Linked DNA regions of Homo sapiens: region 1 is linked to region 2. Evidence: fine-mapped expression QTL. A gene starts in region 2. The other region holds a variant in brackets. All regions are shown on one strand. Distances are from middle to middle.

Evidence for each region.
Region 1: its variant is fine-mapped to the expression of CCDC15-DT in cerebellar hemisphere (GTEx, PIP 0.96).

What each region holds. Positions count from the first base shown.
Region 1 is chr11:125,031,917-125,040,260 of GRCh38, reverse strand. CCDC15 (coiled-coil domain containing 15) reads right to left here. Exons shown (of 16, transcript NM_025004.3): 14 at 1,657-1,830; 15 at 1,192-1,340. Among named protein-coding and RNA genes, the nearest start is that of SLC37A2, 27 kb to the left of the region's middle. The variant A/G (reference allele first, on the strand shown) is at 4,110.
Region 2 is chr11:124,950,831-124,959,174 of GRCh38, reverse strand. It overlaps CCDC15-DT (CCDC15 divergent transcript), which reads left to right and starts at 5,184. Exons shown (of 3, transcript XR_948134.3): 1 at 5,184-5,693; 2 at 7,625-7,836. CCDC15 (coiled-coil domain containing 15) reads right to left here and starts at 4,973. Exons shown (of 16, transcript NM_025004.3): 1 at 4,805-4,973; 2 at 4,266-4,451; 3 at 1-60. The coding sequence starts at 4,442. RefSeq lists an enhancer at 4,770-5,313.

The DNA of each region.
Region 1 (8,344 bases), 81 kb before region 2:
GTTCGAGATCAGCCTGGCCAACATGGCAAACCCCCGTATCTACTAAAAATACAAAAATTAGCTGGATGTGGTGGCACAAACCTGTAATCCCAGATATTCGGTAGGCTGAGGCGCTTGAACCCAGGAGGCAGAGGTTGCAGTGAGCCGAGATCGTGCCACTGCACTCTGGCCTGGGCGACAGAGTGAGGCTGTCTCGGAAAAAAAAAAACAAAAACAAAAAAACAAACAACAACAACAAATGTCATCATAGAATGAAGTTGGGAATGAATGCACAACTACCTAGGACAGGATGGCAAAGATTCCCAGAAGTGGTTAACACTTAAGACGAGTTATGAAGAAATAACAAGAGTAAAGGAAAGAACACAGAGAACTGAGTGTGAGGTGCAAAAGGAGTAAACAATATGGCACATACTGGGAATAGCAACTTTGATAAGGCTAGAGTAGGGCCCAGAGCCAGAGAGAAAATATACCAAACATGCCATGCATCTTATACTGCAGTGGGTAGCCCTAGAGGTTTTAGAATAGGGAAATGGCATAATTAGATTTGTGTTTTTTAAAATAAAGCTGATAAGAAACTTGTATTATACAGATGAAGCACTAGGAATATATATACTGGCAGTATTCCTAGTGTATACATGAGGGCTACATAATCTTTATACTATATAAATCAATATATTTAAGGATGGATAGGAAACAGAAATATTAATGACAATATGAAGGACTAAGTTTTCTCTAGCTGGGACTCCTGATAGAGTTTATACTGTTTCTTATTTTTCTCAGTGCCTCCTGGCAGAACTAGCAATCTAATGTGGATATATATGGTAATACGTCCATGTTACATACCATTAAAGTATTTGAGTAATAGGGAATTCAACTGGATAGAGTCCTAACTTACATAAAAGGCAAATTCTAATAGTCTTCAGTTAAAGGACCTGAAACTCAAGACCTCCTACAGTAGAATGAGCTGAAAATATTTCCCCAGCATAAATGGAGACAAGAAGATAACAGATCTCAAAGAGAAATATAACTCATTATAATTTTTTCACTGCCTCATATAGTTATTTTGTAAAGGGTTTATAACAGTCTCTGATACATAGTAAGCACTCAATAAATGGTAAATTACTATTACCACTACTCTTATTTATTTTTCTTGTTGCCATTAGGCCCTGACTATTCCTTCAAGAAACTTACCTCTGTGGTTTTTATAGAAAATACAGTTGTTGGCACAGGTATCAGGATGAGCATCCCAAAAATCAGGACCACAACAGCATAGTGGAGGTAAAGTAATATTATACAGCTGCATTTTCTCCTGGATTTGGGCTCGTAAAGCTTCTACATATCTGTACAAATAAAGTATAATCAGGCAAAGTGAACTATTAAAAAGAAAGTGAGTATGAATCCTGATTTTACAGCCAGATTTAACTGTTAAATCTATTCCGTATCTCTGGGCCTTGACATTTCCTCTTTGTACTGGGAAAAACGCAGGGCTACACCCAAGAAGTATTAGGCAATCAAAAAATTTGGTGAAGTTATGAACTCCTAAATGAGGAAAAGTATGAAAAGACACAGTCAATTCTCTTCTAAGGAAAATGAGAACAATGAGTTCTACCAAGTCTCTTCTAGAGCCAAAATATCATGAAGACCTTTTCAAATTACCTCAGGTATTCTTTTTCTCTCTGTTGTTTTTCTCTGGTTCCTTTTATTTCTTGAAGTTGTAACTGGGCTAATATCTCACTCAACTTCTCTCCTGAATATGGATCTTCATGAAAGTTCATTCTTAGGATCCTCTGCTCTGCAGCATAACATTCTTGCTCTCTCTTTTTCTTAATTCTGAAAATAAAATCATAACATGGTTAGGAATTTCATAAAATTATTATTTAAAATTAGCTTCTTTATCCAAATAACTCCCAGAAATTCCCAGAAACTAAGGAGTCAGGAAATCAGTTTAATATCCCAAGAATATCCTCAAAAATTTCTGCTGGCTGCTTTATCTCCTCCCAAAGAGAAATGAGCAATGGCTACTATTAAAAGAGTTCTTCCTGGCTAGGTGCGGTGGCTCATGCCTGTAATCCCAGCACTCTGAGAGGCCGAAGCAGATGGATCATATGAGGCCAGGAGTTTCAGATCAGCCTGGCCAACATGGTGAAAACCCATCTCTACTAAAAATACAAAAATTAGCCAGGCAGTGGTGGCACGGGCCTGTAATCCCAGCTACTCAGGAGGCTGAGGCCAGAGGATCACTTGAACTCAGGAGGCAGAGGTTGCAGTGAGCTGAAATTGCACCACTGCACTCCAGCCTGGGCAACAGAGCCAGACCCCATATCTCAAAAAAAAAAAAAACAGTTTTTCTGTAAGAATGTAGCAAAACAGTCTTTTCAGATTGAAACTACAAGTAAACAGGGATTCTGCTTCTGACCAAAACAGAGTAACAGGGACCGCATTTGCCCTCCAACCTTAAACCACCAAAAAAATTTAAAAAGTTTTAAAAAGTACACAAATCAAACAAATACAAGAAATGATGGTTTTCAAGACATTGGACACCAGGTAACAAACAACACTGCTCCTTGACAGATGGGAAACAAGTGAAGTAAACCCTATAACTGCTAGAGATTACTGCCTTGGAAGGTTCCAGGCAGTGGCACAGGGCAGGGAAATTGAAGTGAAGCCTGATGGGCTCTAAGAATTGAAGAGATGGAGTTAAGAGTGCAGAGAGACAAAGGCAGTTAGAGTTCACAGGACAAAGTACCAGAGAGAAGAAAGCTGCCCAGAGACAGCACCCCAGAAATGAACAGAGAGTCTCCTGGTACACAGCAGAGCACTGATTGGTGCATGTATGCAATGAAATAACCTGAGGCTAGGAAGAGAACAATCCAAAATAAAAGAGAACAGTGACTAGAGTCCACCTAGCTCCAGGAATAATTTGTCCTTATTTCCACCAATCAAACTTGAAAAACTTGTATTTCACAGAACATTAGGTAGAGTATTCAGAATGATCTTATCTGAGCAGTAGGGAATAAACACTAGTCCCAGACTGAGTACTGCACCAGACCCACCTAACAAGTTATAAAAGCAAGTCATCAAATGAACTTGACTGTATACCAAAACCAGGTTCAATAATGTAAAGACATCCAGCAACTAACATGGTAAAACTCATAACGTTGGGCATCTAACCAAAGATTACTAAGCACACAAAGAGGCAGAAAAAAAGCCCAGACTCCAGTGAACATCCACAAGCATCAAGACTACTCAGGAAATATGACCTCACCAAAAGAACTAAATAAGTCACCAGTGACTAATCCCAGAGAGACACAGATGTGTGACCTTTCAGACAGATAATTCAAAATGGCTGTTTTGAGGAAACTCAAAGAAATTCAAGAGAACACAGAGAGGAATTCAGAATCCTATCAGATAAATTTAATAAAGAGATTGAAATAATTTAAAAGAATCAAGTAGAAATTCTGGAGTTAAAAACTGCAACTGAAATACTAAAGAATGCATCACAGTCTGTTAATAGTGGAATTAATCAAGCAGAAGAAAGAATTAGTGAGCTTGAAGACAGGCTATTTGAAAATACACAGTTATAGGAGACAAAAGGAAGAAGAATAGAAGAGAATGAAAGTATGCCTATGATACCTAGAAAGTAACTTCAAAAGGGCAAATCTAAGAGTTTTGGGCCTTGAGGAGGAAATCGAAAGATGAGGGTAGAAAGTTTATTCAAAGGGATAATAACAGAAAACTTCCCAAACCTAGAGAAAGATATCAATATTCAAGTGCAAGAAGGTTACTGAGCAGATTTGACCCAAATAACATTAACTCAAGACATTCAATAATCAAACTCCCAAAGGTCAATAATAAAGAAAGGATTCTAAAAGTAGGAAAAGAAACAAATAACATATAGTGGAGCTTCAATATGCCTAGCAGCAGACTTCTCAGTGGAAGCCTTGCAGGCCAGGAAAGAGTGACATAATATATTGAAAGTGCCAAAGGAAAAAGAACTTTTATTGCAGAATAGTATGTCTGGTGAAAATATTATTCAAACATGAAGGAGAATTCAAGACTTTCCCAGACAAACAAAAGCTGAGAGATTTCATCAACACCAGACCTATCCT[A/G]TGAGAAAGCTAAAGGGAGTTCTTTAATCTGAAAGAAAAGCACCTTAATAAAAAATAAGAAATTATCCGAAGGCACAAAACTCACTAGTAATAGTAAGTACACAAAAAGACAGAATATCAAAACACTGTAATTGTGGTGTGTAAGCTACTCATATCTTGAGTGGGAAGACTAAAAGATGAACTGATCAAAAATAATAATTACAACTTTTCAAGACATAGTACAATAAAATATAAGTAGAAACAATAAAAAGTTAAAAGTAGGGGCATGATGTTAAAGTGTAGAGTTTTTATTAGTTTTCTCTTTACTTGTTAGTTTGTTTATGTAATCACTGTTAAGTTGTCATCAGTTTAAAACAACAGGTTATAAGATATTATTTGCAAGCCTCATCGTAACTTCATATTTGGAAACATACAACAGATAACACAAAATATAAAAAGCAATAAATTAAAACATGTCATCAGAGAAAATCACCTTCACTAAAAGACAGGAAAGAAGAAGAAAGAAGACCATGAAACAACCAGAAAAAAAAGTAACAAAATGGCAGAAGTAAGTCCTTACTTAACAATGATAACATTGAATGTAAATAAACTAAACTCTCCAAACAAAAGATGTTGAGTGGCTGAATAGGTTACAAAATAAGATCCAACAATTCCTTGCCTGCAAGAAACATACTTCATCTACAAAGACACATATAGGCTGAAAATAAAGAGATGGAAAAAATATTCCATGCAAATAGAAACCAAAAAAGAGCAGGAGTAGCTATACTAATATCAGACAAAATAGATTTCAAGACAAAAACTATAAAAAAAGACAAAGAAGGTCATTGTGATGGTTAATACTGTCAACTTGATTGAATTGAAGGATGTAAAGTATTATTCCTGACTGTTTCTGTGAGGGTGTGGCCAAAAGAGATTAACATTTGAGCCAGTGGACTGGAAAAGGCAGACCCACCCTTAATCTGAGTGGGCACAATCTTATCAACTGCCAGCGTGGCCAGAATAAAAACCAGGCAGAAGAACGTGAATAGACTAGACTGGCTTAGCCTCCCAGCCTACATCTTTCTCCCATGCTGGATGCTTCCTGCCCTCCAACATCAGACTCCAAGTTCTTCAGCTTTGGGACTCAGACTGGCTTCCTTGCTCCTCAGCTTGCAAATGGCCTATTTTGGGACCTTGTGATTGTGTGAATTAATACTCCTTAATAAACTCCCATATATATATGAGAGTTTATATATATATAACTATGCATATATATAGTTCTGTCTTTCTAGAGAATCCTGAGTAATACAGATTTTGGTACCAACAAATATTAAGGATGGAGTTCTTTTGTTGGTTTTGGGGTTTCTGGAGTTGGCTGCTAAATATGATTAGACTCCAAAATGTTAAGGACTCTACTTCTAATAGTATGGAGAACACTATGGTCCCTGGCACGAACTGTTTAGAGAGTTATGCAAAATAAATGCATTTGACACTCCTGATTCACTGCTCATGAAAGGCAAGGAGTTTAGTGACCCTGTACATAATAACTTTGACCATATGTGGAGAACCAAGGAACATAATGAAGTTGGTTGGTTGCTCCTAAGTTCACTGGACAAAGTGATGAAAGAAAATGATGAACTCAGGGATGCTAACTCCTGGCTTCAGAAGCAGACACTGAGCCTCAAATCTTCTAAGATTGCCCTGAGTAAGAGTCTTATCTCCTGAAGAGAAAGAGATGAAGCTGTGGAAAACCAGACACAAGCTTTTATCACGCGAGTGGCTGGCCTGCAATGAAAGGTGCATGCACAGCCTTGCCAGGTGTCTACTGTTAAAATGAGGGCATTGATTGGAAAAGAATGGGACCTTGCAACTGGGAATGGGGATATGTGGGAGGACCCTGATGACACTGGGGACACTGAGCTTGTAAACTCTGATGAATTTTTTTTGCCGGAAGAAACAGCTTTCTCATCCCCAGTAGTGGCAACATCCCCTCCCCGACCCACATTCCTATCAACCTTTCCACCTTTGTCTGAGGGGATAAACCCTGTGCTGCCTGAGGCAACAGTGATGGCCTCCCCTGAGGCAGTTGCCAGGCAACATAAGTTGATTCTCCTCAGGAGCTATCCCCAACACCTCTGTTTGCTTCTAGACCTATAACAAGACTAAAGTCCTAGCAGGCTCCTAGAAGTGAGGTTCAGAGTGTGGCCATGAGGAGATGTGCTACACTCAAAAAGAACTGCTTGAGTTCTCTAATTTATATAAGCAGAAATCTTGAGAAGAGTCATGGGAATGGATATTAAGGTGTGGGATGATGATAGAAGGAACATAGAGTTTGATCAGGTGAATTTGTCGATTTGGGCCTACTAAATAGGGATTCTACATTTAATGTTGTAGCTCAGGGAGTTAAAAAAGATTCTAATAGTTTGTCTGCTTGGTTAGCTAAAATATAGCTTTTTAAAAGATGGCCCACTGTGAGCGAGCTGGAAATGCCTGATTTCCTCCCTTGGTTTAGAACGGGATCCAAAGGTATAGAGAGATTGGAATGGTGGAGTGGATTAGTCACTTTAGACCTTCTCATTCCAGCTGGGAGGGTCCAGAAGATATATCCTTAACCAATGCTTTCCAAAATAGATTTGTGAGGGCAACACCTACATCTTTGAAGAGCTCTGTAAGGATTGCTCTTCAAGATCTTGATGTATGCCAGATCTAACAATGGGAACCCCAGTCACTCAACCACAAAATTTAAATGCAATGGAAATAATTGGATCCCGAGATGGCAGGGCCAAGTGGCAGCACTCAACCATCAAAGGCAAGATGGGCACGGCTACCATAATGGACAGCAGAGGCAAAGCAACAATCAGAATCGTTTGACTTATGCAGAGCTCTGGCACTGGCTAATTAATCACGGTGTTTCTAGAAGTGAAATTGATAGGAATCCTACTGCATTCCTACTTAATTTATATAAGCAGAAAAATTCCAGGTCAAGTGGACAAAAGACTAATTTTAAATATAAAAACAGAGAATCATGGCCCCTCAATCAATATCCAGACTGGAGCCAGTTTATAGACTCAGAACCTCTTGAATGAAGGGGAAGTCTGCTCCCCTTGAGGAAGGACCCCACTATACTACCAACAATTTATGCTATAAATCTTTCTCCCATCCTTCCCCAAGGAGACCTCCGGACTTTACCAGGGTAACTGTGCACTGGGAAAAGGGAAACAATCAGACGTTTCGGGGACTACTGGACACTGACTCTGAGCTGACACTGAATCCAGGGGCCCAAAACATCATTGTGGTCCTCCAGTTAAAGAAGGGGCTTATGAAGGTGAGGTAATTAATGGAGTTTTAGCTCAGGTCTGACTTACAGTGGGTCCAGTGGGTCCCCAGACTCATCCTGTGGTCATTTCCCCAGTGCCAGAATGCATAATTGGCATAGACATACTCAGCAGCAGGCAGAACCCCCACATTGGCTGATTGGTAGGGTGAGGGCTATTACGGTGGGAAAGGCCAAATAGAAGCCATTAGAGCTGCCTCTACCTAGAAAAATAGTAAATCAAAAACAATATTGCATCCCTGGAGGAATTGCGGCAATTAGTGCCACCATAAGGACTCGAAAGATGCAGGGTTGGTGATTCCCACCACATCCTCATTCAACTCTCCCATTTGGCCTGTGCAGAAGACAGATGGATCTTAGAGAATGACAGTGGATTATCATAAGCTTAACCAAGTGGTGACTTCAACTGCAGCTGCTGTACCAGGTGTGGTTTCATTGCTTGAGCAAATTAACACATCTTCTGGTACCTGGTATGTGGCCACTGACTAGGCAAATGCCTTTTTCTCCACTCCTGTGCATAAGGTCCAACAGAATCAATTTGCCTTCAGCTGGCAAGGCCAGCAATATACCTTTACTGTCCTACCTCAGGGGTATATCAACTCTCCGGCTTTGTGTCATAATCTTATTCAGAGAGACCTTGATCACTTTCCACTTCCGCAAGATATCACACTGGTCCACTACATTGATGACATTATGCTGATTAGATCCAGTGAGCGAGAAGTAGCAAACACACTGAATTTATTGGTGAGACATTTGCACGCCAGAGGATGGGAAAAAAAATCTGACTAAAATTCAGGGAACTTCTACCTCAGTAAAATGTCTAGGGGTCCAGTGGTGTGGGACCTGTCGAGATATTCCTTCTAAGGTAAAGGATTTGGCCTCTCCTACAACCACGAAAGAGACACAATGCCTAGTGGGCCTA
Region 2 (8,344 bases):
AGCTTCTTGTTTTTTTCTTAGCTGTTCCTTTAGTTCTTCTTCAATTAAATATGCTGATGTCTTTAAAGATGAAAGACAGAAAATGAACTTAAATGTTAGCAGTTTTGTCCATTAGGGCTGTTTTAAACACAAAACAGTCAGGATAAGGATACAATCCTGAAAAAAATAATTCCATTCTGTACAAAAAAAAATGGAATGTATGAGTATCAAATCTTAAATTTTTTATTGAATTAGAACTAACGATGTCTTCATTAAATCTTAATGAACCAAATAAAACCTAACACGTTACACATTTTCTAAAATGGAGTAAATAGTCAAGACACACCAGGTTACTTACCACTCACCAAATATGTCCTATTGTTAAAATGTCTTCATATTTGGCATTATGCTCCATTTTTAACCTGGCATGCCCTTCCTTTCATCTCCACCTAGTAAAGGCCTATTCAGTTTTCACAACCATTTAATACCCACTCCCCAGTACCTTCCACAACACTCTCTCTCTAAGCCCTCTTATGCTATAACACCTCTCATTTCACCAATGTTAACTGAGTATAGTACTTCTTGACTCCCCTACTAGATTATGAACTCTTTGAGGACAGGATATGTATTCAATTCTCCTTTATTTCCCCTACGGCATCTAGTACAGAGCCTTCACTATAAGGGTAGTCAATATATATTTATATAATTGCTCAATTCCAAAACATATTCTAAACCAGGGGTGTCCAATATTTTGGCTTCCCTGGGCCATGTTGGAAGAACTGTCACATAAAATACATTAACACTAGTAGCTGATGAGAAAAAAAAAAATCACAAAAAAACTCATAGTGTTAATTAAGAAAATTTATTAATTTACATTGGGTCGCATTCAAAGCCATCCTGGGCCACATGTGGCCCATGGCCGCATGTTGGACAAGCTTGTTCTGAACAATCTGGAACACTTTATCCCATTTGAGTTCTTGATCTGCATTTATCTCCTCTAAGTGCTTTGAATAATAATCATAGTCATCATCATAACAGCACTTATCATTATTATGGATCTATCAGGTGACAAGTATTTTAACTACTTTGTAGCACTCTATCCTCAAAACCACCTTTGGCAGTAGGTATTCTTATCCCTTATGTTACAGATGAGGAAGCTGGAGTTCAGAAAGATTAAGTAATTTTAATATAGCTAACTAGTAGCAGAATTAGAAGTTTCTGACTCCAACAATTATGTTCCTCTCTACACTGCTTTTCTCTTGACTATGTCTCTCTTTCACTAGGAATTTTCAAATTAAATAAAATCATCATCATATCTCGTACCTATTCCTTCTAACTCAGTGATTCCAACTTCTAATTCTGAAGGGTACCTCAGATCATTTTACAGGCTGTCATTAAATTCTCAAAATCAAATGCATTCAAATTTCAATTTAAGTTAAAATTTCCAAGATGTCTATCCCATAAACTACTCTAGTGGAGTGTACAAGTGTCAAAGAACAATTAGGTAAAATAATTCCAACGGAGAGATATATACGTAATGAAGCCTGAACAACTGACCCAGCTTAACTCAAGCCCCAGACAAGTTTAAGCCATTCGGCCTCTTTCTTTTACCTCCATTTTCTCTGCTCCTCTTTTACTCCACAAGATTACAAGCCAGGTCATAAAGAAACTTCCACCTCTGTTCTTAGAGTGCTCATTCTGAAGGAAGTCAGCACCATATAAAAATTCAGACTACCCTGAGATTACCATGCTGTGAGGAAGCCCAAGTTAGTCAAACAGAGAAGCCATGTGAAAAGAGAAACATATCTAACCAGCACCCAGACATTCTAGTCATCCTAGGCCAAGCGTCAGATATGTGAATAAGAAAGCCATCTTGGACATTACAGCCCAGCAGGTGCCACATTACTGGGAGAACTTGACTATTGTCTAGCTCCAGCCAATAGCCGGAAAATAGTCAAGGTGTCTCAGACATGTCCAGTTATTTGAGCCCCAGCTGAGGTCCCAGACACTATGGGGCAGAAACAAGCCATTACCACTGTACCCTGCTCAAATTCCTGTTACATAGTATTATTTGCTTTATACCACTAAGTTCTGGGGTGGTTGGTTACACAGCAAAAGGTAACCAGAACAAATTATAAAATAATGCAATCCCATATATGATGATAGAACAGCAGTGTCTTTTGATGCTAATTTATTAATAATTATTGGGGGGAGGTAGTCTAAAGCTATGACATTTTTAGGAATCCTGATGGCCCCCTGAAATTTTGGGGAGAAAAATGAGTAGAAGTTCCCCTTTAGAACAGACATGATCTAAGGGCCAAGCTTTAGAAGTAACTATTCAGCATTTATTTTGAGCTGACAGAGCTATATCCGTTAATAAGGGTGGATACCCAGACTAGATATGCTAAAGCTATAAGGAGTTCTATTAGATGCTTGATCAAACTCCCTTTGGCTGGAACTGATCAGAAATTTTTAAATCAGGAAAAGGAGATATGTTTATCCATGTTCCAAGACTTTAATATTTTGAGTTAATGTGTGTGAATACGATAGTCAATACTTCTTAACATAGAAAAAGTTTGATGGTGTCAAATTTTAGGCATGTTGACACTACTGATATTATACAGATGTAATTTGAGCAATTACAAAGAGGTGTCAACAACTTAAATACCAAAATATCTTTATACCAAATCTTACCAAGTCTTGTGGGGTGTTTCCTGCATTCATCCCTTCTCATTCCACTCCTTTTTTTTTTCCAGAGATGGGGTCTCACTCTATTGCCCAGGCTAGAGTGCAGTAGTATGATCATAGTTCACTGCAGCCTACAATTCGTGGGCTCAAGCACTTCAATCATCCTTTTTCAAGGCTGTTCTTCTCTATTTCTTACCACTAACAAAGTTTCGATGCTATACTCCATGCTTAAATTATTATAATTATATTCTAATTTATCCCCAGGATCCAATCACTCCCTATCCTTCAAAACCTTTGAAGCAATTCATCTAAAGAAAACACTGGTTGATCATGACATTCACCTGTAAATATTAAACAAAGTCAATCCCTTCTCCAAAATTTCCTAAGGTACTCTACCATCCCTATTTTCCATAATCCTGTCAGCAACCATTCTCCTACTAAGCTTTCCACTCCAATCGATCTAATCTACCCTTAGAATCCTGAACCTTGCTTACTTCTTACTCTCCTCATTCTCCTTAATAGGAGAATCATTCCCTTCCCTTCTCCGATCAAATTCTTCATTACACTTTCCTGGGTCACATCAACCCAACGTCATAGCTTCTTGATTGAGCATTATATTCTTAGAACTTAGATAGAGATACCACCTAGACTCTTAAAATCCTTTTTGGAAATAGGCAGGGTAGGAATAAATCAATGAATATACATACATATGTGCAAACATAAATAAAATGAATATAGTATATTGCATTACTTTAACATTTAAACACATCTCATTTCTCTTCTGAGATCAAGTACACTGAGGGAACATATCTCATCCTTTTTTCATCCATGTTCAGCACCTTGTCTACACATACAGAAGACATTTTGTGCCTTTCATAAATACTTCATGAGTGTCTATATTGATTAGGCAGTATTTAAGATAAAAGTGGGAATGTGATGATAAATGACATTTGTTCTCTACGCTCAAGGAGCTCACACTGCATCAGGAAAAGATATATAAACAATCTACTATAACACAATGTGGTAAGTGCCAAGTTAAATTTGAACAAATAGCTAAGGGGCACAGTTTGGTGAAAGACTATCAGAAACCATGGAATTTCTAGTTAGACTTTCTCAGATTATCAGAGTTCATCTCTTTCTCCTTTATTCTATTACTCCATTTTGCCTGAATCCTCATTACAAAATTTATCATAAACCTTAAGCAACCAATTAATGTTACTTGAAGTATGCCAACTATCATCCATACTAAGTTGCAGTGTCTGGAAGATGTAGATAGTGCTTATGTCTTGGGCATAACAAGCAATCAAGAGTCTGAAGTAAACTGATATACAGATATATATCTATATAACCTGTTCCATGTAGATTATGCTCTATATATTATAGTAGGTGAGTAATAAATATTTGATTATGCCAACTAAAGCTGCAGTCAAGTTTTGGCAAATACTTGTTCTATAATCCTAATGCAAGAGCATAAACTATTTATGGCAGAATAGAAACAGCATCCTCGGACTGTTCATCTTTAAGCACCCAGGATTAGAGAAGGCTAATAAAAAGGGTGGTGGGGAACCCCACCATATTTGGATCAAACTGACACTCACATATGCTGGGATTTCCGAACTACCTGGTGAGGCAGGTTCCACCCATGCCCCAACTGGTACTATAGCCTCGTTCCTCTCAGCCAGCACTGCCAACACGTCCTTGCTCTTCAGGGGGTTTAAAGCCAGGGGCAACCTTGAGGTATTTCGAGGTTTCTTTCGGGCCATACTTCCCAGCATCTGTGACTCCTGATTAGGAGAAAGAAAAAGCTTAAAATCTTCAAATGACTGCATTAAAAGTTCAACCTCCTAACACATGAGCCACAGGCCCGTGAAAAGGAGAGAAGCCCTGGAGGCAGAAGCCTGGCATGAAGTGGAAACACACGGATTCTAGAGAAAAAGGAAGAAAAGAAGGGAAGAGAAATGGGAAGAAATAAAGAGGCAAAGAAAGGTTTTTAAGTTGCCTTCTAGAAGAAATGGCGATGAGAGGGAAGAGAAAGGATGGGAATGAGAGAACGAAGACTGTCCTCAGCTGTGGGCGCAGCGAGGCGGGAAGGGAGGAATGACAGCTGCAACCCGGAGAAAGAGGGAGGGGCGGGGACCTGTGTCTGCAGCCGAGAGTCCCAATAATCGGTATAGGTTATGGGAAGACGCGCTGAACGGCTGGGAGCCTCGGGCCAGATAAAAGCCTGCTTCTGAGGCCCCGAGGCCTGCTCCGGCTGAGATGGCACTGGCCAGGAATCGGCCCGCAGCTCGCCACAGACTCAGTCTACTCGGAGTACTAAGGTAACCGCCTCAAGTAGACCGCCACTTTGCGGTGGGCTGCTCCGTCCCGCCCATCCGTAGCCTTATGCCCGCCCTTTCCGGAGCCCGCGTCCCCTCCCGGAGCTGGGAAGGCGTGAGAGGTGGAGTTTCGAGCGCCCGAGGTATCGTCATTTCCTCTTCCTGTCCGGCTGAGGGGGCGGGGACGTGTGGGTAAGCGGAGTCGCTGGGTAATGCGCCATGTGAGGCGCGGTGGGACTGTCGTTCCTGGACCAACGCCGAGACTTCCTAAATCCCTCCGGAAAGGGATGCGTTGGGCCTGTGATCTGGCGACTAGGAGGGTCAGGAGTCCCAGTAGAGGGAATCACGGGAAAAGAATGAAAGAGGGAGGCGAGCCTGGCACGGCTTCCTGGAGAAACAAACTAAGCTAACAAATTTTTCGGATCCTTTGTGCAGCTAATTTTACAGTACTGTTTCATACATCTTATTATATTTGGACATCACGGCCTGTTGAGTGGTCTCCCTCTCTGCTGCAAGCTCTGCTGTAATCCAGAGACACTCAATTATCTCTGTAGGATAATTTATTCATTCGATTAACATACATTACTACTAACTTTTTATAAACCAGTACTGTTCCAAGCACCGGAGATACATAGCTATGAACGAAACAAATATCCCTGCTCAGGGAATTCACAATAGAGTGAGGGGAAATAAGCGAATAAACAATGAGTAAGTAAATGTGTGTGATGTGGAGTAAAAGCAAAGAAAGCGGATAGGGAGTGTGGTGGGCAGGGTGGGGATTGGAGGGATGAAATATTAGAACGTCCAGAGAAGCTGCACTGAGATACTTTTCAGCAAAGACTTAAATGAGTTAATGGAAGAAGCCACTGTGCTCTTCAACGGAGGCTTTATAAACATGTTCCAGATATAACAGCAAGTATAAACGCCCCAAGGTGGAAGCATTGCCTGGTTGAGAAAAAGTCAGGAGGATAGTGTGACTGGAGCAGAGGGAGAGTGGAAGAATGCTGAGACAGTAGGTCAAGCAGGCAATCCGATCAAACATCGTAAGCCACCATAGGTGTTGAGATGGGGAGCCACTGGAGCAAGGTTTGGAGCAAAGGAACACCATAATGTGACAAAATTAAAAAAATAATAATTCCGAATGCTGTAGTGAGAATAGACTGTAAAGAAGACCAATTAGGTGGCTATTGCAATAATTCAGTTAAGGGATTGTGATGTCTTGGATCAAGGAGGTAGTGGTGGAGATGATGATAAGTGGTTGGATTCTGTATCTATTTGGGAGGCAAAACTTTCAGGATCTGTTGAAGGTTTGGATATGGATTGTGTGAGGGAGAGATGTCAAGGAAAACTAGGGGTTTCATCCTGAGCAGCTGTCAGGATGAAATTACTATTTACTGAGATAGTGAAGATGGTGGAAGGAGTAGATTTGGAAAGGGGAAGATCAGGAGTTCAGTTTGGGGCAGATAAAGTTTTATCTAATCAACATCCGAGAAGATAGTATGAGAAAAAGTGTCTGGAGCTCAGAGAAGGGTTCTGGGCTACAAATATAAATCTAAGAGTCGTTAGCCTGTAGATTTAAAGCCATGAGACTGGATGGAGTCATCAAGGGGTTGAATATAGACAGATAAAAGAATAAATCCTAAAACAGCCCCAGGGTATGTCAGTATTACAGAGGCTGAGAAAAAGAGGAGGAGAATGCTAAGAGATTGAGAAGGATTAATCAGTAAACCAAGGAAGAAAACTATGAGGGTGTGATACCTTGAAAGCCAGGTGAAAAAGAAATGTTCCATTGAGGGCAGACAATCTGTGTTAAATCCTACTGACAGATCAAATAAGGTAAGGACTGAAAATTGACTATTGGATTTGACCATGTGGAAGTGATTGATAACTTTTAAAAGAGCAGTGTCTTTAGAGTAGTTGGAGAGCAAAAGCCTGATGGGCTAGGCAAGAAAGAGTAGGAGAAGGAATTGGAGACAGCAATTTTAGACAATTCTTTCCATGAATTTTGTTGTGAAGGGACACAGCGAAAGAGGTGGCTGAACGTAGAGGTAGGATCATTGGAGAGTTCTTTAAGATCATAGCATATATTTGTTATTGATGGAAATTAACCAATAGACAGGAGAAAACTAATGATGCGGGAGAGATATGGGAGAATTTAGGGATCTACAGTCATGTGTCACTTAAAGATGGGGATACATTTTGATAAATGTTAGGTGATTTTGTCTTTGTGCAAACCTCATAGAGGAAATGGAATTTAGTGAACAAGTGGAGGGATTGGCCTTAGATAGCAGGAGGTATGGTTAATTATAATAATAGCAGAAAAGTTAGAATACACAGTAAACTGATAATTAGGTAATGTGGTGGCAGGAGCTTATGGAAATTCTCTTCTGATTACTCTGTTTTCTCTGTAAAATAGTATTGTAGCCAACCTCCAAGATGGCCCCTAATGATCCCCACCTCTTGGTGTTCACACCTTTGTGTAGTCCCCTCCCACATTGTACCTAGGTTGGACTGTATGACCAACAGAATATGGCAGAAGGGATGGTATATTACTACAGAGGTTAGGTTATAAGAGATATGCTCACATGGGCTCGCTCACTCTCTCTCCCTCCCTCCTTCCCTCCCTCCCTCCCTCTCAGATCTCTTGTTCTGAGGGAAGCCATGTACATCATTAGCAGTTCTATAAAGAGGATCACATGGCAAGAAACTGAAACATTCTGCCAGCTGCCCTGTGAAAGAACTTGGAAGTAGACCCTCCAGCCCTAATCAAGTCTTCAGAGACTGTACTCAGCCAACAATTGACTGCAACCTCATAAGAGACCCTGAGCCAGACCGCCCAACGAGAAACTGTGTGAGATAATGTTTGTTGTATTAAGATGCTAAATTTGAGGGTCATTTGTTATACAATGAGAGAAGTAGGAGGTAAGGGACTATGAAAAGTTGGTAGAGTCAAGAAGTTGTAGGTTCCTGTGGTGGTCTAAAGTTTGTTAGAACAGGATACTCAAAAGAATGTGCTAAGATAAGAGGTGGTCTGAGAGTAGGCTGCTTGGAGCTGAGTGTATGCAGAGGTTGTGGTTATTGGTGCTGTCAAAGTCTATGGTATGACCAAAGGAGGGAAAGCTAAGGTGGGTTAAAGAACAAGATCACTGGAGAAGAGGTCATAGAAACCAAACACCAGAGCATTGATTGGATGATCCATGAGGATACTGAAATCACCAAAAAATATAACAAGAATGATGTTGGAGAAAGCCAGAAGCAACAATCTTGAAAAGGCTTGGAGGTTGGTGGGTAAGTATAGCTTGGAAACCCAAGCATGGTATATTCTGGTGACATGAGGTTCAAAGTTGGAGGTGAGGTTA